Homo sapiens: one gene and its partners. The protein of the gene in region 2 purifies or fractionates together with the protein of the main gene of each other region. This does not show direct contact. Each region holds a gene or a part of one and is shown on either strand. Other genes may lie near its edges.

Region 1 (3,500 bases), on a different chromosome or scaffold from region 2:
CTGCTGAGTCCAAAGTTTGTTGCAAGTGCTGTGTGCCTTCCAGTTCCTGGAGGGGCGGCTTACCCTCTGTGACAATGACTTCTTCTTCCTCCTGGCTGTTTAGGGCTCCTTGACCGTTCAGGGCTCCTTTCTGGCCATTTAGGTCACCCTCCTGGAGGCTGAGCTCATCTTGCTCAGCTACGCCATTGATGGTGGACAGCTGACCATTCTTCTGTAGGAGCTATGGAAAAGACAAAGCCATAGAAACTTAATTTCAGTCCTCATGACCAAGTCAGAAACAAGGCATTAACTTCCAGAATACAAACCAGTGAAAGAAGAAATACAGAGAAAAGGAAGTTCAAAAACAATGAAGAGTTAAGTCTTATATTTGTCTGAAAGATCCAGCTACCTTACAAGCAGATAGGGCCTTGTATCTGGGTAAGTGTGCCCATCAGCCATTCATCCACTCATTAATTCATTCATTGGAACACCAGATACATACATTCACCTTTCCAGACCTATTTCAAATATAACCATGAAAAAATCAGATGTGTTTCCCAGAGCTTTGAGCTTACAAATTACTATGGAAGGCAGACTTAAAAACCTCTTTTTTACTTTAAAATAATAAATAATGTTTCCTTGTGATTAGATGCAGGTTAAGCATAATTGACTGAACAAGTCAGAAGGCAGACTTTTAAACAAATAATTACTAAACTGCAGCTGTGGAAACTGTCATGAAGGAGGCATACATAGAACAAATAACAATAAACAGAGCCCTTGAGAATGAATCAAGTAGGTTTTAAAAAAAAAAAAAAAAACAGCCCTGACTGAGGCTGGGGGTGTCCAGGACTTCTCTGAGGAAGCAATGGTAAAGCTGAGATCTCATTTCCACAGGCAAGGGCTGTGTAAGAAAAGGATAAACGGGGTGCAGAGAAGGGAGGCCGCTTGGCGCGAAGGCCAGTGCTCCCAGAGCCCAGCAAGCAAACAAGACACATATAACATGTCCATTTGGGTCATTGTTTTTTCCTTAAAAATATTACTACAATGGTCATTTGCAATCCTCCCCATAGGATGCCCTGTGCAACTGATGGCATCAGTTTCAAAATCAGCAGGCATGGCCGGGCGTGGTGGCTCATGTTTGTAATCCCAGCACTTTGGGAGGCCGAGGCGGGCAGATCACGAGGAGTTCAAGACCAGCCTGGCCAACATAGTGAAACCCCGTCTCTACTAATAATACAAAAAAATTAGCCAGGCATGGTGGTGCATGCCTGTAGTCCCAGCTACCTGGGAGGCTGCAGAAGGAGAATCACTTGAACCTGGAGGTGGATGTGGGAGGTGGAGGTTACAGCGAGCAGAGATTGAGCCACAGCACTCCAGCCTGGGTGACGGAGCGAGAAAAACAAAAAACAAAAATGAAAAAACCCACAAAATCAGCAGGCATGTAGGCATGCCCTTGGTCATATAATCCTTTTTTTTTTTTTTTTTTTTTTTTTTTTTTTGAGATGGAGTGTCACTGTTTCACCCAGGCTGAAGTGCAGTGGCGTGATCTCGGTTCACTGCAACCTCCAGTTCCCAGGTTCAAGTGATCTTCCTGCCTCAGCCTCCCACATAGCAGGGATTACAGGCGTGCACCACCATGCCTGGCTAATTTTTGTATTTTTAGTAGAGACGTGGTTTGCCATGTTGGCCAGGCTGGTCTCAGACTCCTGACCTCAAGTGATCCACCCACCTCTGCCTCCCAAAGTGCTAGGATTACAGGTGTGAGCCACTGTGCCCGGCTTGCTCTTGGTCGTATTTTTAATCCTGAGAATATAGGTAAAAAAATTTTAAGCCAATAGAAACAATAACCATTAGGAACCTAAATGTTTCAACAATGTAATATACAGCAATGTTATATATACAGATATCTCATTTATCTTAAAACCAACATAGGCAGCTGCTATTATTTCCATTTTATAATAATGACACCGGGACTCAAAGCAATTCTGGTGGGGTGGGGTTGTCTTGCCCCAGGTCACACAGCTCAGGAATGGGGGCATCATGGCCCGAAGCCAACTCTTGCCACCAACTATTTCCAGCGTTTTTCTGTTTGAGGCTCTCAACATAAAGATAGGTGCCATGTTTTGAAGGTCCTGTTACTACACACAATTATAAAGATAGGTGCCATGTTTTGAAGGTCCTGTTACTACACACAATTACAAAGATACGTGCCATGCTTTGAAGGTCCTGTTACTACACACAATTATAAAATGACTTAAAGGGTATTCCAGGTCTGGAACCGGTCTGGAAAAGGTCTGGTACAGACCTGCATGCTACAAAGCAATCTCAACTCTGCACTCCATCTGACATCATTCCATCCTGCTTCCAGGCCAATGAATGACTCTGGACTCACCACTGACTTAGACCCTGAACGCTGAAGGGACAGTGGGTTCAAGACACGCAATCCAGAAGCCTTAAGTTGTGCTAAATTGATTTCACCTGGCTGTTCTCGGCTCCCAGCAAGGCTGTCCTTCAACTGCATGAGCTTCCTCCTGAAATAATACCACTGTAGTTTAATACTTACACTACAGATGGGATTGTTGGCTTCAAAATGCCCATGCTGAGTCCATTTATTAAACAGAATACTCAGATTACATTTCCACTTAAAGTCTTCTCTTACCAAAATATGAAAGATGGGCATTTTAAATGAAACCTAAAGACAAAAGCAGGGGGTAGGGAATGGAGAAGGGGGCAGTGTGTCTCCACAAAGCCCATCTGCAAAAATGTCAGAGTATTTCTTTTTTTTATTTTTATTTTTGAGATGGATTTTCGCTCTTGTCCCCCAGGTAGTCCAATGGCATGATCTTGGCTCACTGCAACATCCGCCTTTTGGGTTCAAGTGATTCTTCTGCCTCAGCCTCCCGAGTAGCTGGGATTACAGGTGCCTGCCACTGCGCCCAGCTAATTTTTGTATTTTTAGTAGAGACGGGATTTCGTGTTGGCCAGGCTGGTCTCCAACTCCTGATCTCAGCTGATCCGCCCGCCTCAGCCTCCCAAAGTGCTGGGATTACAGGCATGAGCCACTGCGCCCAGCCAAATGTCAGAGTATTCTAACTAAATATCATTGAGTATGTACACAGGACTTAGATTTGATTAGTAACAGGAAGAAAAGTTGGGGGAGGAAAGCAGGAATCACATATTATCGTGGGCTACATGGTAACCCAGTGAATCTTAAACCTAGAAACTGTTGACATACACAGTTTCATGATATGGCAAACTAAACAGGGAACATAAAAAAGCCATCTTAATACCTCAATTTCAATGCAATAAACTTCGGTCAATTGTGCCTCTTATTTAGGAACCAGAACTCTGAAGTTCTATAGAGTTTAGGGTTCTACCAAGTACCTAAAATTATTGAAAAAATTCTTATAATCCTCTGTGAATTGCCCAATCCAAGGTATCTTTAGTTGGAGCCAAACTGAGTCTCTTTAAACATGAAGACTATAGCACACAGGCACAAATTTCCGTCTACTCTTTTAGAA
Region 2 (3,500 bases):
GCCTGAGTGACAAAGCAAGACTCCGTCTCAAAAAAAGAAAAAGAACAAGAACTATAGAGCTGGGCGAGGTGGCTCACGCCTGTAATCCCGGCACTTCAGGAGGCAGAGGCAGGTGGATCGCTTGAGCCCAGGAGTTCGAGACCACCCTGGGCAACATGATAAAACCCTGTCTCTACCAACAAAAAATAAAAAATAAAATAAATTAGTTGGGTGTTGTGCACACCTGTAGTCCTAGTTACTCAGGAGGTTGAGGCTTGAGCCCTGGAGGTCGAGGCTGCAGTGAGCTGAGATCCCACCACTGCACTCTCAGTGACACAGTGAGACCCTGTCAAAATAATAATAATAATAATAATAATAATTGCGAAAGGGACTCTGAAGTAAACAAAACAGAGAAATATGATAGAGAATGACTGAAAGTTGGGGAAGTAGATCAGGGAAAAGATATTACAAGCGGAGGGAAAGCAAGTGCAAAGGCCACTGGCAGAAGTGAACAAGGCTTGGGTCCCTAACAGCTTAACAGTGGCTCACACCTGTAATCTCAGCATTTTAAGAGGCCAAGACAGGAGAATGCTTGAGCCCAGGAGTTCAAGGCTAGCCTAGCAAGACCCTGTCTCTGCAGAAAATTTAAAAATTAGCGGGTTGTAGTGGTGTGTGTCTGTGGTCCCAGCTACTTAGGAGGCTGGGGCAGGAGGATCACTTGGGCCCATGAGTTGGAGGCTGCAGTGAGCCATGCATTGCACCACGGCACTCCAGTCTGGGTGACAGAACAAAACCTGTCTCTAAAAAATAAAATAAAGTAAGCTGGACACGTCTGAGGATGGAACAAGGTGAGTGAAGGAGCGTGTCAGGACCTGAGGTAGCCAGGGACCTCAAAGGCCAGCCTTGCTTCACCCACACAGTGGCTTACAGTGGTAAGGCCTCTGTGGCAAGAACAGAGATGTAGGAAACCATCGGCTGACCTGAACCTGCCCCAGACTGCCACGCAGGGGACTTAAGAAGGTACTGGGCTTTGGGGAGAACATAGAAGTGTGAGGGTGGGGGACACTGTGGTGGCTCTGAGGGACTTTGGCACTTCCCTCTCCCTTTGATCTTCGTAGTCTCGAGAGATAGACCGGGCCCGCCGAGCAGACATCAGAGAAGCCAACATGTACTTCCTGATTGAGGCCACCATCGCCCTGTCCGTCTCCTTTATCATCAACCTCTTTGTCATGGCTGTCTTTGGGCAGGCCTTCTACCAGAAAACCAACCAGGCTGCGGTGAGACACACTTTCCCCCGCACCTGAGGCCACACACGTACTCATGTCCTGTAAGCCTTGCCGAGGACCCTAGGCAATGCAGCTGAGCCCTTCTGAGTCTCTGCCCTGATGATCTTCCCTGTTGGCAGATATCATTCATTCAGCAAATAATCATTGAGCATTTGTTATATACCAAGCACATCCTAGACCCTGGGGATACAGCAGTCAATGCTACAAAGACCCAGCTCTCTGCAGCTTAAATAGGGAGGGAGGTGAGCAGACAGGAATGAATACCCAAGGGAAGTACAGAGTGGGAAGAAATAAAGGGGGTGAAGAAGCATAGTTGGGGGTATGGGGGTGGGGTCTGCATTAGCCCAGGTGGTCAGGAAAGGCTTCTTGGAAGAGATGACATTTGTGCTAATACTGGAAAAGGAACTAGCCAGCTCCTCCCTGACTCTCTGGGATCTGGGACCTGTGTCTGTCTCCCCTTCTGAGTGGATCTCAGTCATGAGGCTCTAACAACTGCAGCCAGGGTTGGGGGCTTCCTGAATGCTGAGCCCTGTGGGAGAAGGGGTGGCCAGGCCTCCAAGGACCTGGGCACTGCCACTGCCTTGCTCTGTGACCTTGGGAGGTCACACTCCTCCCTGGGTCTCACTCTGTTCCTTGGCACAAGGAGGGAGATCAACATCAGGACTGCAAACCCTTGTCTTCAAGACCAGGCAGGCGCAGAGTTGTGGGAAGTGGACAGTGTGAAGAGGGCATGGCAGCCAGCTGTCTCTGTGGTGATGCCAGCTCTTACGAACCTAAAAGAAGCTGGAAACTGGGTTCTTATGCCAGGCCTTCTCAATTTTAAATGTTGGCAACAAATCCACATTAAAGAAAAAAAAAACCCGGCCGGGTGCGGTGGCTCACGCCTGTAATCCCAGCACTTTGGGAGGCTGAGGCAGATGGCTCGCTTGAGCCCGGGAGTTCAAGACCAACCTGGGCAACATGACAAGACCCCCATCGCTACAAAACGTAAAAGTAAAACAAAACAAAACCCAACTTATTTTGTTAGCCAAACAAAATATGTCTGGCCAGATTCAGCCTTGGGCCACCAGTTTTGGAACCCTGGTCAGTGCTAGGCAGTCCAGTTTCCCAAGGCTGAGCGTGCTCCTCACATCTTCCTTCTACTGCCCTGGTACCCACAGTTCAACATCTGTGCCAACAGCAGCCTCCACGACTACGCCAAGATCTTCCCCATGAACAACGCCACCGTGGCCGTGGACATTTACCAGGGGGTGAGCGCGGGTGGGTGGGGAGGGCGTGACCCAGAGAGGCTCCCCGCCTCGGGCAGGGCCACCGGTCCTACCACACTCGTCCCTGCAGGGCGTGATCCTGGGCTGCCTGTTCGGCCCCGCGGCCCTCTACATCTGGGCCATAGGTCTCCTGGCGGCTGGGCAGAGCTCCACCATGACGGGCACCTACGCGGGACAGTTCGTGATGGAGGTAGGGCAGGGGGCGGGCCCAGGAGGGCAAGGGGTCCAAGGACAGCAGGCACACTACTGGGGGCTAGAACTCCGAGCCTTGTGGGTCCTCTTTTCTTTTCTTTCTTTTCTTCCTTTTTTTTTGTTTTTGTTTTTGTTGTTGTTGTTGAGACGGAGTCTCGCTCTTGTCGCCCAGGCTGGAGTGCAGTGGCGCGATCTCGGCTCACTGCAACCTCCCCCTCCCAGGTTCAAGCTTCTCCTGCTTCAGCCTCCTCAGTAGCTGGGATTTCAGGCACCTGCCACCAGGCCTGGCTAATTTTTGTACTTTTAGTAGAGACAGGGTTTCGCCATGTTGGCCAGGCTAGTCTTGAACTCTTGACCTCAAGTGATCCGCCTGCCTTGGCCTCCCAAAGTGCTGGAATTACAGGTGTGAACCACCGCACCCGGCCAATTTTTGTATTTTTAGTAGAGACGCAGTTTTGCTGTGTTGGCCAGGCTGGTCTCAAACTCTTGACCTCGTGATCCGCCCGCCTTGGACTCCTGAAGTGCTGGGATTATAGGCGTGAGCCACTGCGTCCGGCCTTTTCTTTTCTTTCTTTCTTTCCTTTTTTTTGAGACGGCGTTTCGCTCTTATTGCCCAGGCTGGAGTGCAATGGCGCGATCTCCGGCTCACCGCAACCTCCACCTCCTGGGTTCAAGCAATTCTCCTGCCTCAGCCTCCTGACCAGCTGGGATTACAGGCCACCACACCCAGCTAATTTTGTATTTTCAGTAAAGACGGGGTTTCTCCATGTTGGTC
Region 3 (3,174 bases), on a different chromosome or scaffold from region 2:
TGTGGGCCGCTGCTGGGACACGGGCCTCCACTGGGACATGGGAGCCAATGCTAACTCTCAGCCTTATTCCCCCACCTGGCACCCTCCTGCCTCTAGTGGTGGTAACAAGCGGAAGCTGAGCACCGGCATCGCCCTGATCGGAGAGCCTGCTGTCATCTTCCTGGACGAGCCGTCCACTGGCATGGACCCCGTGGCCCGGCGCCTGCTTTGGGACACCGTGGCACGAGCCCGAGAGTCTGGCAAGGCCATCATCATCACCTCCCACAGGTAGAGCCTGGGTCTGTGGGTTACTGGAAGTTTCAGCACCGGGTGGGCCATGGAGGAGCCAGGTGGCCAGGAGACCCATCAGCATCTGGTGCAGAGTCTGCCCGTGAGCCACACTGAGCATGGGTATCAGGAACAGCCTGATCGGAGAGCCAATGCCTTCCTGTCTGCACAAGCCTTTGGCACCCCAAGCCCTATCTGAGGTCCCGCCCTCTCCACAGCATGGAGGAGTGTGAGGCCCTGTGCACCCGGCTGGCCATCATGGTGCAGGGGCAGTTCAAGTGCCTGGGCAGCCCCCAGCACCTCAAGAGCAAGTTCGGCAGCGGCTACTCCCTGCGGGCCAAGGTGCAGAGTGAAGGGCAACAGGAGGCGCTGGAGGAGTTCAAGGCCTTCGTGGACCTGACCTTTCCAGGTGTGTGCCGGCCCCGGCAGCCCCCACTGGGTGGGCCCTGGGCCCCTACCTAGGCCTCTCCCATCTGCTGTGCGGAGCGTCTGTGCCTCGCCCCGCCAAGTCCCATCTCCCCAATCCCTGGGACGAGGACTCCAGTGCTGAGCACCCAGGCACCCTCCCCGATCCTCCAGCCCGGCGCTCACAGCAACACCGTCTCTCCTTTGTGCAGGCAGCGTCCTGGAAGATGAGCACCAAGGCATGGTCCATTACCACCTGCCGGGCCGTGACCTCAGCTGGGCGAAGGTGAGGCAGTCCCTGGGGCCCCACTGGGCACTCATGGGGCAGGGGGAGGTCCCTCCAGGGGTCTCTCCCTCTGTGGTGACTGCAGGCTCTTTCCACAGAGGAGTCACTTTCCATTTCTCCCCTAACACTCAGCCTGATACGTGCTGGTTTGGGGGTTTTATATCCAAAATTATCAGTGGTAAAAGGAATTCAGTGTAAAACAGGAAAGGGGTCAGGGATGGTGGCTCACACCATAATCCCAGCACTTTGGGAGGCCGAGGAGGGAGGATTGCTTAAGCCTGGGAGTTCTAGACCAGCCTGGGCAACATAGACCCCGTCTCTACAAAAAATTTAAAAATTAGCCAGGTATCATGCATACCTGTAGTCCCAGCCACTCGGGAGGCTAAGGTGGGAGGATCGCTTGAGCCTGGGAGTTCGAGACTGCAGTGAGCTATGATTGTGCCACTGCACTCCAGCCTGGGCTACAGAGCAAGACTCTCTCTAAAAAAATATGGGGGAAAAAAAGAACTGGCTCAGAAAGGGAACATCACTGGCTCAAGGTTGTAATCTGAGCTGGGAACAGCACAGGGAGGAGGCTGGGCCCCATCCCCGCTGGCTCCTGCTTAGCCAGCGTCCTCTACCTGGGAGCACGGTGCCGTCGCAGGGCTGACCTCTCTGGGGCTCTGGGGTGGCGCTGGGCAGGGGTAGGATTGTGGGGGCCTCATCAGCCCCTATTGCCAGAGGACTCCCAGGTCCCGCAGAGGAGCCTGGGCCCTGTTCTCTCCTACCAGTGACTTTTCTGCTCCCCAAAGGTTTTCGGTATTCTGGAGAAAGCCAAGGAAAAGTACGGCGTGGACGACTACTCCGTGAGCCAGATCTCGCTGGAACAGGTCTTCCTGAGCTTCGCCCACCTGCAGCCGCCCACCGCAGAGGAGGGGCGATGAGGGGTGGCGGCTGTCTCGCCATCAGGCAGGGACAGGACGGGCAAGCAGGGCCCATCTTACATCCTCTCTCTCCAAGTTTATCTCATCCTTTATTTTTAATCACTTTTTTCTATGATGGATATGAAAAATTCAAGGCAGTATGCACAGAATGGACGAGTGCAGCCCAGCCCTCATGCCCAGGATCAGCATGCGCATCTCCATGTCTGCATACTCTGGAGTTCACTTTCCCAGAGCTGGGGCAGGCCGGGCAGTCTGCGGGCAAGCTCCGGGGTCTCTGGGTGGAGAGCTGACCCAGGAAGGGCTGCAGCTGAGCTGGGGGTTGAATTTCTCCAGGCACTCCCTGGAGAGAGGACCCAGTGACTTGTCCAAGTTTACACACGACACTAATCTCCCCTGGGGAGGAAGCGGGAAGCCAGCCAGGTTGAACTGTAGCGAGGCCCCCAGGCCGCCAGGAATGGACCATGCAGATCACTGTCAGTGGAGGGAAGCTGCTGACTGTGATTAGGTGCTGGGGTCTTAGCGTCCAGCGCAGCCCGGGGGCATCCTGGAGGCTCTGCTCCTTAGGGCATGGTAGTCACCGCGAAGCCGGGCACCGTCCCACAGCATCTCCTAGAAGCAGCCGGCACAGGAGGGAAGGTGGCCAGGCTCGAAGCAGTCTCTGTTTCCAGCACTGCACCCTCAGGAAGTCGCCCGCCCCAGGACACGCAGGGACCACCCTAAGGGCTGGGTGGCTGTCTCAAGGACACATTGAATACGTTGTGACCATCCAGAAAATAAATGCTGAGGGGACACAGTCACAGTCTGTGGGTCACACGCGCGAGCGGTCACAGGGCTCAATCACTCGCCCACAATCTAGACATGAGGCTCTCCTTTCACATTTCAATCACACAAACGTGGGACGTTGCTTTTCCCAGAAGGGAGCACACGCAGAGAATACACTGAGGTGAAGGAACAGGCCCATAACACAAAGGAAAAAGCCGGCTAGATCAACGCCCGGTGACAGGCTCTTAGTCTAAAGACAAGAGCAGGTGGGGCTGTGTGGGAAGCACAGGTCTGGTGGGAGAGAAGCTGCTGGCATCAGGGTCACCCGTGGGCATTTGCCATTTCCCAGAAATAACTCCTCATCAGCTCCCTTTTTAGTTATTTATGGAGTCTTGCTTTGTTGCCCAGGCTGGAGTGCAGTGGCGCAATCTTGGCTCACTGCAACTTCTGCCTCCCGGGTTCAAGCCATTCTCCTGCCTCTGCCTCCCGAGTAGCTGGGACAACAGGCACGCGCCACCACACCCAGCTAAT
Region 4 (3,500 bases), on a different chromosome or scaffold from region 2:
TATCAACTATGTGATCATGGTTTACATCAATAGTAAAATAAGACTGTTGACATCATGTACCTTCTGATATAAGGCACTGAGATGAGCACAACATGATTTCTATGGTGTTCTTGCCAAAAATATATAACCTGAATTTAATCATGAGAAAATATCAGACAAACCCAAATTGAAGGATATTATATAAAATAACTAGCTGGCTGGGCACGGTGACTCATGCCTGTAATCCCAGCACTTTGGGAGGCTGAGGCTGGCTGGTGGATCATATGAGGTCAGGAGTTTGAGACCAGCCTGGTCAACATGGTGAAACTCCATCTCTACTGAAAATACAAAAATTAGCTGGGCATGGTGGTGCACACCTGTGGTCCCAGCTACTCAGGAGGCTGAGGTCGAGGTTGCAGTGAGCCGAGATCGCAGTGAGCCGAGATCGCACCACTGCACTCCAGCCTAGACAGCAGAGTGAGACTCTGTTTAAAAAAAAAAAAAAAAAAAAAGCCAGTATGCTTAACAAGGTCATGAAAGAGAAGGAAAGACTGAAGAACTCTCCCAAATCAAAGGAGATTAACTACAAGTAATAGCCAAATGCAGTGTGTGATCCTAGATTGAATGCTGAACCAGAAAAAGGGTGGGATGGTGATTTTTTTTTTTTTTTTTTTTTTTTTTGAGACAGGATCTCACTCTGTCACCCAGGCTAGGGTGCAGTGGTACAATCACTGCTCACTGCAGCTTTGACCTCCTGGGCTTAAGTGATCTTCCCATCTCAGCCTTCTGAGTAGTTGGGACCACAGGTGTGTGCCACCACGTCTGGCTAATTTTTAAATTGTTTGTAGAGAAGGGTTTCACCATGTTGCCCAGGCTGATCTTAAACTCCTGGGTTCAAGCGATCCTCTTCAGCTCAGCCTCCCAAAGTTCTGGGAGTACAGGCATGAGCCCCTGTGCCTGACTTGTTGGTGAAATTTGAATGAATTCTATAGATTAGTTACTAGTATTGTATTAGTGTTAATTTCCTCTATTTGATAATTTTACTATTGTTATGATGCTTTTAGGGTAATTGGATGAAGTCTGTAAGGGATGTTATTTTATTTTTATTTATTTATTTATTTTTGAGACGGAGTCTTACTCTGTCGCTAGGGTGGAGTGCAGTGGCACGATCTTGGCTCACTGCAACTTCTGACTCCCTGGTTGAAGCGATTCTCCTGCCTCAGCCTCGCGAGTAGCTGGGATTACAGGCATGCGCCACCACACCCAGCTAATTTTTGTATTTTTAGTAGAGATGGGGGTTTCACCATGTTGGCTAGGATGGTCTCGATCTCCTGACCTTGTGATCTGCCTGCCTCGGCCTCCCTAAGTCCTGGGATTACAGGTGTGAGCCACTGCGCCTGGCCAGGATGTTATTATTATTATTATTTTTGAGACAGGGTCTCACTCTGTCACCCAGGCTGGAGTGCAGTGGCATGATCATGGCTCTCTGCAGCCTTAAACTCCTAGGCTTAAGCATTCCTCTTGCACATTCCTCCTGCCTCGGCCTCTCGAGTAGCTGGGACTACAGGCACACATCACCATGCCTGGGTAATTTTTTTTTTTTGTATTTTTTGTAGACATGACGTTACCCCATGTTGTGGCCAGGTTGGTCTTAAACTCCTGGGCTCAAGTGATCCGCCTGCCTCGGCCTCCCAAAGTACTGAGATTACAGGCATGAGCCACTGTACCCAGCCTAGTAAAAGTATTTTATTTTATTATTTTTATTTTTTAAAACTCCCTTATCCAATAAAATTATTTTAAATTGAAAATTTTAAAATAAGAAAATCCCAAGGGACTGGATATTGAATAAAATGCTTTAACATGCAGGTTTGGGTGACAGTTTCTGTATACTAGTTTTTTATTTGTTTTTTTGCATGTCATCTTTAAAGCAGAAATGAAAGAGAAAGTTCATGTCTTCCTTTGTGGTTTTCAGGAAGAGCTAAAGATGGCTGAATTTCTAGATGACCAGGAAACTCGACTGTGTGACAACTGGTAAGACATTAAATCTAAGAAATGTTAGTGGAATGAGGACAGTCAAGCTTAATCACTATCATTTCCTGATTTAAAAACTGTTAGTGAAGACTGGCACAGTCTTGAGTTAAGCTTTCTATTTTGGTGTTTATAACCCACATGAATTACAAGAAAGAGCATCTCTTTCCTGATGAAATGAAACCGGTTGTAAAGTTAATAATCAGCTGGTTCCTGTTGGGGTTTTCCTAAGAACTTATCTTGGTATCTTGGTGCTATACAAGTGCTGTTACTGTAAGCTGACAAAAAAAGCAAAGCAGAACTGTCTGCTATGTTTATTACTTTATTTTCCTTCACTGGGTACTTCTTTCACAATGTGCTATGTTTACCTTAGCAAACTGTGGTAGAAAGAGATGTGGAATAAGGAAAATAGTTTAACTCATTGGTGGAATATTTGAGCCAAATAACATTTTTGTCATCATCGTTGTCTTTTTCTTTCTTCTCAGCCTAACTTTGGCAGAATTAGAATATAATTAGAGCAACAGCTGGTTACAATATTCTTTACCTGCTTGGAATTAAGATTTCATCTCATTGTAGGTGTCTTGCCATATTGTAGAGTATTTCTGCTATGCCACTATCACTTTCTACCATTTCATAAACTATTTTAGTTTTGTTTGGGTTTTATATGTATAGCTACTGAAACAGAGTAATCAGAAACAAATAATCAAAAGAAAACATGATTTTGTAAGAAAAGAGACACATTGGTTTTTAGCATTAGTTAAGATACACCTATTTTATCAGTCCACTCCAATTAGGAGGAATCTCAAGCCTAGGACAAAATATAAATAACTATGCTAAGAGAGTTAAAGGGTGAGTTAATGGAAAGCTAGTGAAAAACAATGCTATTCAAAGCCAAAGAAATTAAAGAAAAAAGCAGATTAGCATAGAAGGCTGACTAAACCTGTAAAGAATTAATTTCTGGCTGTTTGTGTTTAGTGTTTGGAAAGTTCTTGGGAATTTTTCTGGAAGCTTTGGTTTGCCTTTCAGCTATTTCTATCTAAATGAAATTTCACCTCTAATTTGCTAGCCCTTCCTTGAGACTTTTAGCAGTTTTATCTGGATACGGAATTGTGTGCTCATTTATCTCACTTAAAACATCTTCATTTTCTCCGAAGGTAGGAAGTAAGCATATTAGTATTTGGTCTGGTTGGAATGTTTGGTAGGAATATGTTGGCAGTTAAATTTTAAAAGAAAAAAACCCAGCAGGCAACTGTTTTATATAATTGTTGCAAATATCTTTTTTATTTCAGCATTTCCTAAGAGGTGAATATGTGCAATAGTAAATGCTTTGTGGTCTTACTTGACAGCTGCTTTTGATTCTTGTTGCTTCATATTATGATGGTGTGGTCCTTAATATTTTTTGTTTTAATTCTAAAGTTTTAGGGGCCTTGTGTATGTAGTATGTCAACAAGTTATCCTGAACAGCCTTGTAAAGTAAATGCTAGACATTTAGT
Region 5 (3,500 bases), on a different chromosome or scaffold from region 2:
TACCAGGGACCTGTTTCATGGAAGACAATTTTTCCACGGACGGTTTGTGGGGGTAGAAGAATGGGGATGGGATGTTTTCAGGATGAAACTGTTCCACCTCAGATCATCAGGCGTTACATTCTCATAAGAAGCGCACAACCTGGATTCCTCACATGCACAGTTCCCAATAGGGTTCGCGCTCCTATGAGAACTAATGCCACCGCTGATCTGGCAGGAGGTGGAGCTCAGGTGGCAATGCTCGCTCACCCGCCACTCACCTCCTGCCATGCAGCTGGGGGGAGCTGGGGACCCCGATATAGTGTGTATGCCATGTTAAAATAATTAAAACAGATTTGGATTGTGCTGTCCTTTTAAATTTTAATAAAATAGATTAATTTCATATTACATAGAGAGCAAGTCCATCCATTCATCCGTGATAAAATTTTAGAAATATTTTCTATAAAATGTTTAGTATTTAATTGGAAATGAATCCAGTATAACATGACTTCCACAGATACAGCATTCCCATCCTCACTCCCATTCCTATTTTGAGAAATTTTAAAAATACAGAAAAGTACAAAAAATAAGACAAGATATCCCTATACCACAATCCAGAATCAATCAGTATCTTCTTATATTTACTTGAAGTCTTTTGAAAGAGAAGTGGATGTTTATATAAAAAGCTGAAGTCCCCTTTAACCAATACCCATCCCACCTCCCACACTCATTATTTTCCCTTCTCCACTCTTCACAGGTGACCACTATCAAGAGTTTGGTCTGTATCCTTCCAATCCGTTTCAAAAACATGTACATACATATATGCATCCATTACCAATAGATAGTACTGAGTTTTATGAGGAAACTTTTAATTCAAATTTACAAAAAAGTCATTGTACTATCTGTATCATTCTGCAACTTGATCCCCCCTCAACAATTCTGGGATCTTTCTGTTAATACATGTGGATTTCATTTGTTGCATTTTACAGATATATAGTATTACATAAGAATTTCCCATATTGTTCGTGATGGGCTTTCTCAGTTGTTTCTAATTTTTGGCTACTACAAATCAAGCCACAGTAAATATCCTAGTGCGTATTTCCTGAGCATTCATACTCATAAGTAGAACCGCTAAGTATTTCTCAAATTGTTCCAAGGAATGTTTCCCTATTCCCAAGGTCATATGCATTTTAGTACATAGCTTTTCCATATTTCTGTTTTTAATCTCTGGATTCACTTTTGTGTATAGTTCATGGTCTATTTTTCCCCCTTGGAGAACAAACTACCTCCACTTAAAAAAAATAGTTCCATTATTTCCTCATTTCCTGATGCCACTTGTATCATATTCCAAATTCTAATAAATGCATAGGTCTTTTTTTGAAATCTCTTCTGCTCTGCTCAATCAATACCACAGGAGTCTTAATATTAGTTGTAGATGACCATGTCATCTATTTTTGTCTGTTCCTTTCCAATATTTACAACTTAATTTTTCTTGTTACTGGCGAAGATCTCCAGATCTATGGTGGTAGCAATAAAAAACAGGCCTCCATTTTCTGTTCCCACTTTTAGTGAAAATGTGCCTAAACTTTCACCATTATCTCTGCTGCAGGTTTCTCTGTTGGACACAGGGTTTTAATCATATGCATGTCTTTCTCTTCAGTACAAATTTTCTGGTGTCCCTTAAGTTTTTAGTACTTGTTAAAGTTAACCTCATTCGTGGTGCTTTGCTTCAGAAGGATTATTTCTGGGGCATGATGAGGTGCAAATTTCTAATGAAAGCTTTCCCACTTTCAAGGCTTTCATGGGGTTTTTAGTGAGTATGAATTTTCTGGTGTCTAATGTGGTGTGACTTCTGGCTGAAAGCTTTCCCACATTCACTGCACTGATAAGGCTTCTTACCTGTGTGTATTCTCAAATGCAGAGCAAGGGTTGAGAACTGAGAGAAAGCTTTCCCACATTCATTACAACCATAGGGCTTCTCCCCTGTATGGCTTCTCACATGCACAGTGAGAGATGAGCTCTGAGAGAAGGCTTTTCCACAAACATTGCATTCGTAAGGTTTATCACCTGAATGAATCCTCACATGTACAATAAGTGATGTTCGCTGAGAGAAGGCTTTTCCACATTCGTTACATTCATAGGGTTTCTCTCCAGTGTGAATGTTCTGATGTTTTATGAGGTACTTCTTCTGGCCAAAGGCTGTTCCACATTCACTACATTTAAAAGGCTTCTCTCCAATATGGATTTTCTCATGCTCAGTAAGGTTGGATTTGCCACTGAAGGTTTTTCCACACTCCTTACATACAAAGGGCTTCTCTCCTGTGTGAGTTCTCTGGTGTCTGATGAGGTTTGACTTCTGAATGAAAGCTTTCCCGCAATCTTTACACTCAAAAGGTTTTTCTCCAGTGTGAATTTTCTGGTGCGTAAGGAGGTTTTCCTTCTGGCTAAATGATTTTCCACATTCATTACATTCGAAAAGCTTCTCGCCAGTATGGGTGTTCTGATGTTTAATGACATACTGCTTTTGGCTAAAGGCTTTTCCACACTCGTTACATTCAAAAGGTTTCTCTCTCGTGTGAAAATGCTCATGCTCAGTGAGGTTTGATTTGTGGCTGAAGACTTTTCCACATACCTTACAGGCAAAGGGGTTTTCCCCACTGTAAATTCTCTGCTGGCTGAGGTGTGACATCTGAATGGAAGCTTTCCCACATTCACAAGGTTTCTCTCCAGTAAAAATTTCTTGATGAGTGAGGATTTACTTTTGGCTGAAGATATTTCCACATCTCTTACATTTATAAGGCTTCTCTGTGTATGATCTCCCAAATGCAGAGTAAGGGATAAGGTTTGAGAGGAAATGTTATCATACTCAGTATATTCAATGCTTTCTCTCTAGAAAAATTTTCTAATATTCAATGAAGTATTGCTACCTTCACTAGTTTCTCTCCAGCATGAATTTTCTGCTTCTCAATGAGATTGTCATCTAGCTAAGGGCTTGTCAATACTCCTTAGAAGCACAGGGTTTCTCTTCAGCATGACTTGCACGTTCGACGAAATGCAACATATGAGTAACAGTTCCCCCACATTCAGTAAATTCATAGGGTTTCTCTCCAGTATGAACACTCTGGTAACAGATGAGGTACAAACGTTTTAAACCAAAGACATTTACACTTAAAGGGGGTTAATACCATAAGGAGTAAGCTGTGGTAGAGAAGCTCCCAACTAAGTCCCTTGATGATTCTTTCCTACACAACCTCCCTCATGATTTCAGTCCAGGTTGTGTTTCAAACTGAAAACTTCAAAAAGGTGTGGCCTTAAAACAAATACGATCTGAGAACAGAGGAAGTATTTTTTCTTATATTCAACGCTCTTTTTCTCAGTCTTTCCTGGAGATGGATCAACATGCCTCCCAAGTCCTGGTGCCTCTCAAGTCCTGGTGCCTCTCTATCTGTGCATCATCTTCTCAGGCTTCTTCTAAAATGGAGTACAAAGAACCATAGCACAAAGGAGTTAAATTCATAAAGTGC
Region 6 (2,651 bases), on a different chromosome or scaffold from region 2:
CCTAGAACTCCCTCTTGCTCCAACTTCCTCAACTTCTGTTGGCAATGATGTCATGTCTTCCTTCTAACTAGAAACTTTGTTTTCTCTCTTAGAATTACCTCTCTGAACAGGACTTTGTGTCTGTGTTTGGCATCACAAGAGGGCAATTTGCAGCTCTGCCTGGCTGGAAACAGCTCCAAATGAAGAAAGAAAAGGGGCTTTTCTAAAGCAAGAAGGCCTATACCTATTGCAAGGCCACAGAAAAGAGCAGATAGTGCCAATATCAGGAAATAATTTATCCACCAATTTCTGCCTGACATTCAGCTACTTAATTTAGATATAATAGAGTCTGCAAATCACGGCATGTTCTCCATTTTTTCTCATCCTTGCATTCCTTGCTTGTTATATACCTAAAATGTTAACCATATAGTTTTTGGGTTTTGTGGCCCTCTAGCTAAAGCCTCAGCAGAAAGCACTAAAACTGCATAAATCTGGAGAAATCAAAAGAAAGAGAACCAAAAAACAATGCTTAAAATGTTTAATAACTTTATGTTTAATATTATACCAGGACCTACCTTTGTTTTCAATTTTAAGATGATTATTTCTAAAATCTATTTAGCCTGTAAATCATTGAAATCATATATGCACTCCATAGGCAAAATCCAAATACCCAGATCTGTAATGTGTCAAAGCATTTTTCACTTTTCAAATAAAGATACCTATAATGAACAAATGGAGTTATTTTCAGTATTCTGGGTCTGCTTGTTACGGTAATTTTATGTTATACTTGAAGAAATGTTTCAGTACTGGGGAAGTAAAGAGGCAATGTTAAGTGAGCTCTCTGGGTAACTGGACTACTCTAATTTCTGTTTCTGGCACAAGAATGTCAAAATCTGCCTTACAGCTGGCCAGGAAACCTCAGTACCCACCCACCCACACATCATCCAAAAGAGAAATAGGGGCATGTGTTATTAATTTCATTAAATGAGGCCAGAACCAGTGTGTCTACCACTGCAGAGCACCTTCAAAGCATACTACAGACAATCACAAAGAAGAGAACCCACATTTTCCAGACAACTCTAGGTTTGAATCAATAATCCTAAAGAAATCCATGTGGCACAAGTAATATAACTAGGGAGGTTCCGAGGCAGAAGCACGGTTCACAGTGTCGCAAAGCAAAAACAGAACAAAAGAGTTCTATGTCATAAAAGGTGTAAGACAGAACATATAAGTTAGAAATTTCAGAAATACCATAATAAATCTATGTTGAAGGGAGCAGCAGTATTGTTGATGCCTGTTCTCCACGACACTATCACGTCAATAAGGCCCACCTGTTGTTTTTGAAAGGCACAGAAAAGCTAAATCCAGTATTACGCAAACAAGGAAAAAATTATTTTTATTATACAACTATTTAATAATTTTACCCATGCATTCTCGGTCTGAAGAGGTTTGGGAAATATTCCTTTTTGTAATGATGTCCAGAGCTAAAAGTAAATATTCCTCCTGGGCCAAAAGTCTCTGGAACCTATTCAGTTTCTGCTGCCTCTTCACCTTCTCCACATTCAAACCGCACAAAGTCTACTACCGACACCCCCTGAGGCTGCACATACTGCCCCAAGGTAATGGAGGGATCCAGCAAATACGGCTGGGACAGCATCTTAGTCTCTGCCTCTCCCCCAGGCTCATCGTCCAGGGAGCCAACAGAGAGGGGGGCCATGCCCACCACATGCTGCCCAAGGCGGCGGCCAACGTCTTCAAGGTTTGTTTTCTGTTCAGACGTCTCACAGATGACCAGGGCCCCATACTTCCCCAGCACCAGCTTGTGAAGTGAGGGACTCTGCATTGCTCCGTGGACATAAGAGCCAACGTAGAACCCAGATGGCACCTTCACCCATGCAGCTCGTTTAAGAATCATGTTTTCTCCCAGTTTTCCTATTAAAGCAAAAACAAAAAACCAACACACCAACAAATTGTGATGTCTGTGATGGTACCAAAATATGCACAGAAGAGGCCCAGTTTGGAAGACAGTCCCTTTGCATTTACATAGGATATGCAGTAAGATGAAGAGATACCATTTTCAGTTTTTGTAGAAAGAGGAAAAGGGGTATGGGGCAGGAGAGCGGGAGTGGGGGAAGTGAAGAATACCTTTATGAAGCACCAACTATGTGCCAGGCACTCTGGTACTTAAAAACAGGCCGGGTGTAGTGGCTCACGTCTGTAATCCCAGCACTTTGGGAGGCTGAAGCGGGTAGATCACCTGAGGTCAGGAATTCAAGACCAGCCTGGCCAACATGGATGAAACCCTGTTTCTACTAAAAATACAAAAATCAGCTGGGCGTGGTGGTGTGCACCTGTAATCCCAACTAATCAGGAGGCTGAGGCAGGAGAATCACTTGAACCCAGGAAGCGGAGGTTGCAGTGAGCCGAGATCGTACCATTGCAGTCCATCCTGGGAACAAGACTCTCTCCAAAAACAAAAAAAACAAAAAAAACAACAAACATAGGTTGTATAGGTTGTGGTGACACAAGTATGTGTGACTCAGGTCTCAGTTCTGCCTATTTACTGACTATATGACCTCGGGCAAGTGACTCAATGACATAATCTCATTTACTAAATTTATCAAGCCTTTGTTTCCTCACCTTTAAAATAGAGATGACACCACCTACCTTTC
Region 7 (3,500 bases), on a different chromosome or scaffold from region 2:
CCCACATGCTATGGCCAGGCCAACCCCCGCCACTCCACCCCCACCTACGATGTCTGTCACTGTCACATAGGAGGGACGCATGTAGGCGGGACTCCATACGCCATGGCCAGGCCAACCCCCACCACTCCACCCCCACGAACGATGTCTGTCACTGTCACATAGGAGGGACGCACGTAGGCGGGACTCCACACGCCATGGCCAGGCCAACCCCCGCCACTCCACCCCCACCTACGAAGTCTGTCACTGTCACATAGGAGGGACGCACGTAAGTGGGACCCCACATGCTATGGCCAGGCCAACCCCCGCCTACGATGTCTGTCACTGTCACATAGGAGGGACGCATGTAGGCGGGACTCCACACGCCATGGCCAGGCCAACCCCCGCCACTCCACCCCCACCTACGATGTCTGTCACTGTCACATAGGGGGGACGCATGTAGGCGGGACCCCACACGGGAGTTACGCGAACGCCGGACACCAGAGCAGCTTGGGAGCGTGCGCAGCCCATCTTTGACAGCCGAGCAAGGGCGTCACGCAGGGGTGATGCTCCAGAGGCGGCGCCAAGCGCAGGCCCTCCCCGGAGCCAGCTGCCTGGTGGGGGACAGGACTCCCACAGACGCAGGGCCAGGGCTGGGCAGGGCAGCGGGCTGGACAAGGGGACCTGACACCTACCTTCTACAAAGAGAGTGAGTGTATGAGTGACTTGTAAAATTAAAGATGAACTTACTCAAAGACAAGCATTTTGGAGACAACGAAGTATTTTAAAAAGGACCGGGTGCTAGATTAGATGAAGTTCCTGAAAAATGACATTTTGTTAGATGAGATCAGCTTCCTGTAGGGCTTTTTCTTTTTTTCAAGGAGTCCTTACATGTTGGAGAATTTACAGACAAAATGATGTGATGGATATTTTCTCTAAAACGCTGTGGAAAGAGAACCACAGTGGGCAGAAAGGGACCAGCAGTGCCGCGAATCGCTGGCGCAGGAAGAGGGATTCATCACACTGCGTCCACACACTTGAGATTTCCACAGAATTAATTTTCGAAAAGGTTCGAAGGCCAAGGATGTATGCGAGGGAGAAGGCAGGGGCAGCCCTCGAGGGCTGTGGCGGTGCGGGATGGCAACCACCCACTGAGACGCGGGGCAGCCTGGGGCCGGGGTGTGGGCCCCCTGGGCATGCGGTCCTGGCAACGCACTCAAAACCCCCATCATAGTTTCTACCCCGGGACCAAGGCTGCCACAGCCCCGCCCACAGGGAGCTTCTGTTCATGCTCCATCCACAGATCTCAGAAATCACTCAAAAAGGGGCTGAGGTGCTTTACAAAATCGATCCCAAACTTCACCCCGGTCTTTGTATGGGACGACTCAGCTATGCCAGCCTGAGCTGGCAAGCTCTGCCGGCCTTTCTGCATCAAGTGTGCCCACGCATTTCCGTGTGGACTGTGGCTGCGTGGTATCTGTGAGGCCCGCAGCCTGCAAGATGAACAGTATTTCCTCTCTGGCTCTCTGCAGAAAAGGTCTGCTGAGCCCCGGCCAGCGTGGGGCCAGCGTGGGCCTGGGACCTGGGGCCTGACATGCAGACACAGCAAGGAGAGAAGCTGCCGCACCTTATTCCTCAGGTCTGAGGCAGGGAGGCGGCCTCCGTGGAGGGGAGGGAGGCCATGAGGTGTCAGGGGCCACAGTGAGGTCACCATGGGGCCTTCGCAAGCAAACCTGGGCCCCACGTAGCCCACAAATGAGTTTTGCTCAACCCCAATAATGCTTTATTAAACAAACAAAACACATTGCCAATGTCCAAAAAGTGAAGGATTTCACATAAAAACCCAAACTGACAACTTTCCCTGAAAAGTCTGCGTCAGCCTGCGGGTTCCCTGCACTCCTGAGCTTTCCCTGAAAAGTCGGCATCAGCCTGCGGGTTCCCTGCGCTCCTGGGCCACCCCTGGTGTAAGGAGTTTCCTGCCAGGGAGGGCCACAGGCCCGCCTGGAATCATAGCAGAGGGTCCAGGATGTGGAGGCGGGGCTGTGGGGAGAGGAAGGGGGCACCCTCAACAGACGGGGGTGCTGCCCAGGCTGGAGGGGCAAGGACAGAGGAAGTCAGGCAGAGAAGGTGGCCCCCAGGGGTCCCCAAGATCATCCAGCAGAAAGGAAACTTGGAGCCACAACACTAGCCCTCCCTCTACAGCCAGGAGTGCAAGGCCCAGGGCGGGAGGGGAGGCCAGGGTCGGGTGGTCCCAGGGCCCCAAGAGGGGAAAACAGGGAAGGGGGGTTTCCTCCCACCCAGAGGCAAAGGAAGCCAGGGTCAGGTGGGAGGCAGCGGGGTCGGCTGGGAAGGCCTCTGGCTGCTCACCTGGGTTCTCGTGACTGGCCATCTGCTGGTCCTCAGAATCCAGCGGCCCCGGAGACCAGGCTTCTTCCCGCAGCTCCATGTCTGGGTCCCTGTTAGAAGGGGATGAGACAGAAGGACAGAGTTTATGGGGTGCCAGGCTGCACCGAGGGCCCTGCAGGGAGGCAGCCTGCAGACCCCGGCGTGACAGGCACAGCGCCCGGCAGACAAGGCACACAGCACCTACCCCAGGACACCGAGAACTGGCCTGGAGCTAGCCTGGCCGCTCCCCACTGCAGGGGCCAGCCAAGGCCTCACACAGCCGCAGGAAGGACTCAAGGACCCTCAAGGGCTACAACCACCGCCAGTTCCCATCCCAGCCCCACCACTCCCCAGCTGGACCTGGGGCAAGCAACCCCACCTCGCGCCTCCTCGCGCCTCAGCTTCCTCACTGGCAAGATGGAGAACATGTTACTGTCAAGCGTACACAAGACAGTGTACATGTGGTGCTCATGCCAAACAGGGACTGGAGTTCCCACACCCCTGGCAGATACTTACCCATCACAGCAGAAACAGGGCAACAGGCGCCTAAGGGTCTCTGCACACGACACTCCCAACCCGTGCCACACACCGTGAGGGTCTCTGCGCACGACACCACCGACCCGTGCCACGCACCAGGAGGGTCTCTACGCACGACACCACCGACCCGTGCCACGCACCGGGAGGGTCTCTACGCACGACACCGCCGACCCGTGCCACGCACCGGGAGGGTCCCTACGCACGCCGCCGACCCGTGCCACGCACCGGGAGGGTCCCTACGCACGCCGCCGACCCGTGCCACGCACCGGGAGGGTCCCTACGCACGACACCGCCGACCCGTGCCACGCACCGGGAGGGTCCCTACGCACGACACCGCCGACCCGTGCCACGCACCGGGAGGGTCCCTACGCACGACACCGCCGACCCGTGCCACGCACCGGGAGGGTCCCTACGCACGACACCGCCGACCCGTGCCACGCACCGGGAGGGTCCCTACGCACGCCGCCGACCCGTGCCACGCACCGGGAGGGTCCCTACGCACGACACCGCCGACCCGTGCCACGCACCGGGAGGGTCCCTACGCACGACACCGCCGACCCGTGCCACGCACCGGGAGGGTCCCTACGCACGCCGCCGACCCG

The links.
Region 1: the proteins of SLC11A1 (region 2) and AKAP12 purify together in Homo sapiens (affinity purification with mass spectrometry; one large-scale study listed by BioGRID and IntAct). This does not show direct contact.
Region 3: the proteins of SLC11A1 (region 2) and ABCA3 purify together in Homo sapiens (affinity purification with mass spectrometry; one large-scale study listed by BioGRID and IntAct). This does not show direct contact.
Region 4: the proteins of SLC11A1 (region 2) and TRAFD1 purify together in Homo sapiens (affinity purification with mass spectrometry; one large-scale study listed by BioGRID and IntAct). This does not show direct contact.
Region 5: the proteins of SLC11A1 (region 2) and ZNF146 purify together in Homo sapiens (affinity purification with mass spectrometry; one large-scale study listed by BioGRID and IntAct). This does not show direct contact.
Region 6: the proteins of SLC11A1 (region 2) and TSFM purify together in Homo sapiens (affinity purification with mass spectrometry; one large-scale study listed by BioGRID and IntAct). This does not show direct contact.
Region 7: the proteins of SLC11A1 (region 2) and ZNF787 purify together in Homo sapiens (affinity purification with mass spectrometry; one large-scale study listed by BioGRID and IntAct). This does not show direct contact.

The regions. Positions count from the first base shown.
Region 1 is NC_000006.12:151,302,467-151,305,966, reverse strand, and holds part of AKAP12 (A-kinase anchor protein 12), read right to left. Parts: intron 221-3,500; coding exon 64-220; intron 1-63. UniProt on the Homo sapiens protein: Anchoring protein that mediates the subcellular compartmentation of protein kinase A (PKA) and protein kinase C (PKC).
Region 2 is NC_000002.12:218,388,773-218,392,272, forward strand, and holds part of SLC11A1 (natural resistance-associated macrophage protein 1), read left to right. Parts: exon of another isoform or gene 1-220; intron 221-1,097; coding exon 1,098-1,256; intron 1,257-2,425; coding exon 2,426-2,515; intron 2,516-2,603; coding exon 2,604-2,723; intron 2,724-3,342; coding exon of another isoform or gene 3,343-3,459; exon of another isoform or gene 3,460-3,472; intron 3,473-3,500. UniProt on the Homo sapiens protein: Macrophage-specific antiporter that fluxes metal ions in either direction against a proton gradient.
Region 3 is NC_000016.10:2,275,381-2,278,554, reverse strand, and holds the end of ABCA3 (phospholipid-transporting ATPase ABCA3), read left to right. Parts: intron 1-96; coding exon 97-267; intron 268-485; coding exon 486-676; intron 677-884; coding exon 885-958; intron 959-1,749; coding exon 1,750-1,881; 3' UTR 1,882-2,674; downstream 2,675-3,174. UniProt on the Homo sapiens protein: Catalyzes the ATP-dependent transport of phospholipids such as phosphatidylcholine and phosphoglycerol from the cytoplasm into the lumen side of lamellar bodies, in turn participates in the lamellar bodies biogenesis and homeostasis of pulmonary surfactant.
Region 4 is NC_000012.12:112,128,560-112,132,059, forward strand, and holds part of TRAFD1 (TRAF-type zinc finger domain-containing protein 1), read left to right. Parts: intron 1-1,951; 5' UTR 1,952-1,963; coding exon 1,964-2,010; intron 2,011-3,500. UniProt on the Homo sapiens protein: Negative feedback regulator that controls excessive innate immune responses. Regulates both Toll-like receptor 4 (TLR4) and DDX58/RIG1-like helicases (RLH) pathways.
Region 5 is NC_000019.10:36,235,606-36,239,105, reverse strand, and holds the end of ZNF146 (zinc finger protein OZF), read right to left. Parts: exon of another isoform or gene 3,448-3,500; 5' UTR 2,666-3,447; coding exon 1,787-2,665; 3' UTR 338-1,786; downstream 1-337.
Region 6 is NC_000012.12:57,795,437-57,798,087, reverse strand, and holds the end of TSFM (elongation factor Ts, mitochondrial isoform 2 precursor), read right to left. Parts: intron 1,912-2,651; coding exon 1,505-1,911; 3' UTR 501-1,504; downstream 1-500. Other genes in the region: AVIL (advillin), read left to right, coding at 93-206. UniProt on the Homo sapiens protein: Associates with the EF-Tu.GDP complex and induces the exchange of GDP to GTP. It remains bound to the aminoacyl-tRNA.EF-Tu.GTP complex up to the GTP hydrolysis stage on the ribosome.
Region 7 is NC_000019.10:56,100,796-56,104,295, forward strand, and holds part of ZNF787 (zinc finger protein 787), read right to left. Parts: intron 2,433-3,500; 5' UTR 2,423-2,432; coding exon 2,344-2,422; coding exon of another isoform or gene 2,042-2,343; exon of another isoform or gene 855-2,041; intron 1-854. UniProt on the Homo sapiens protein: May be involved in transcriptional regulation.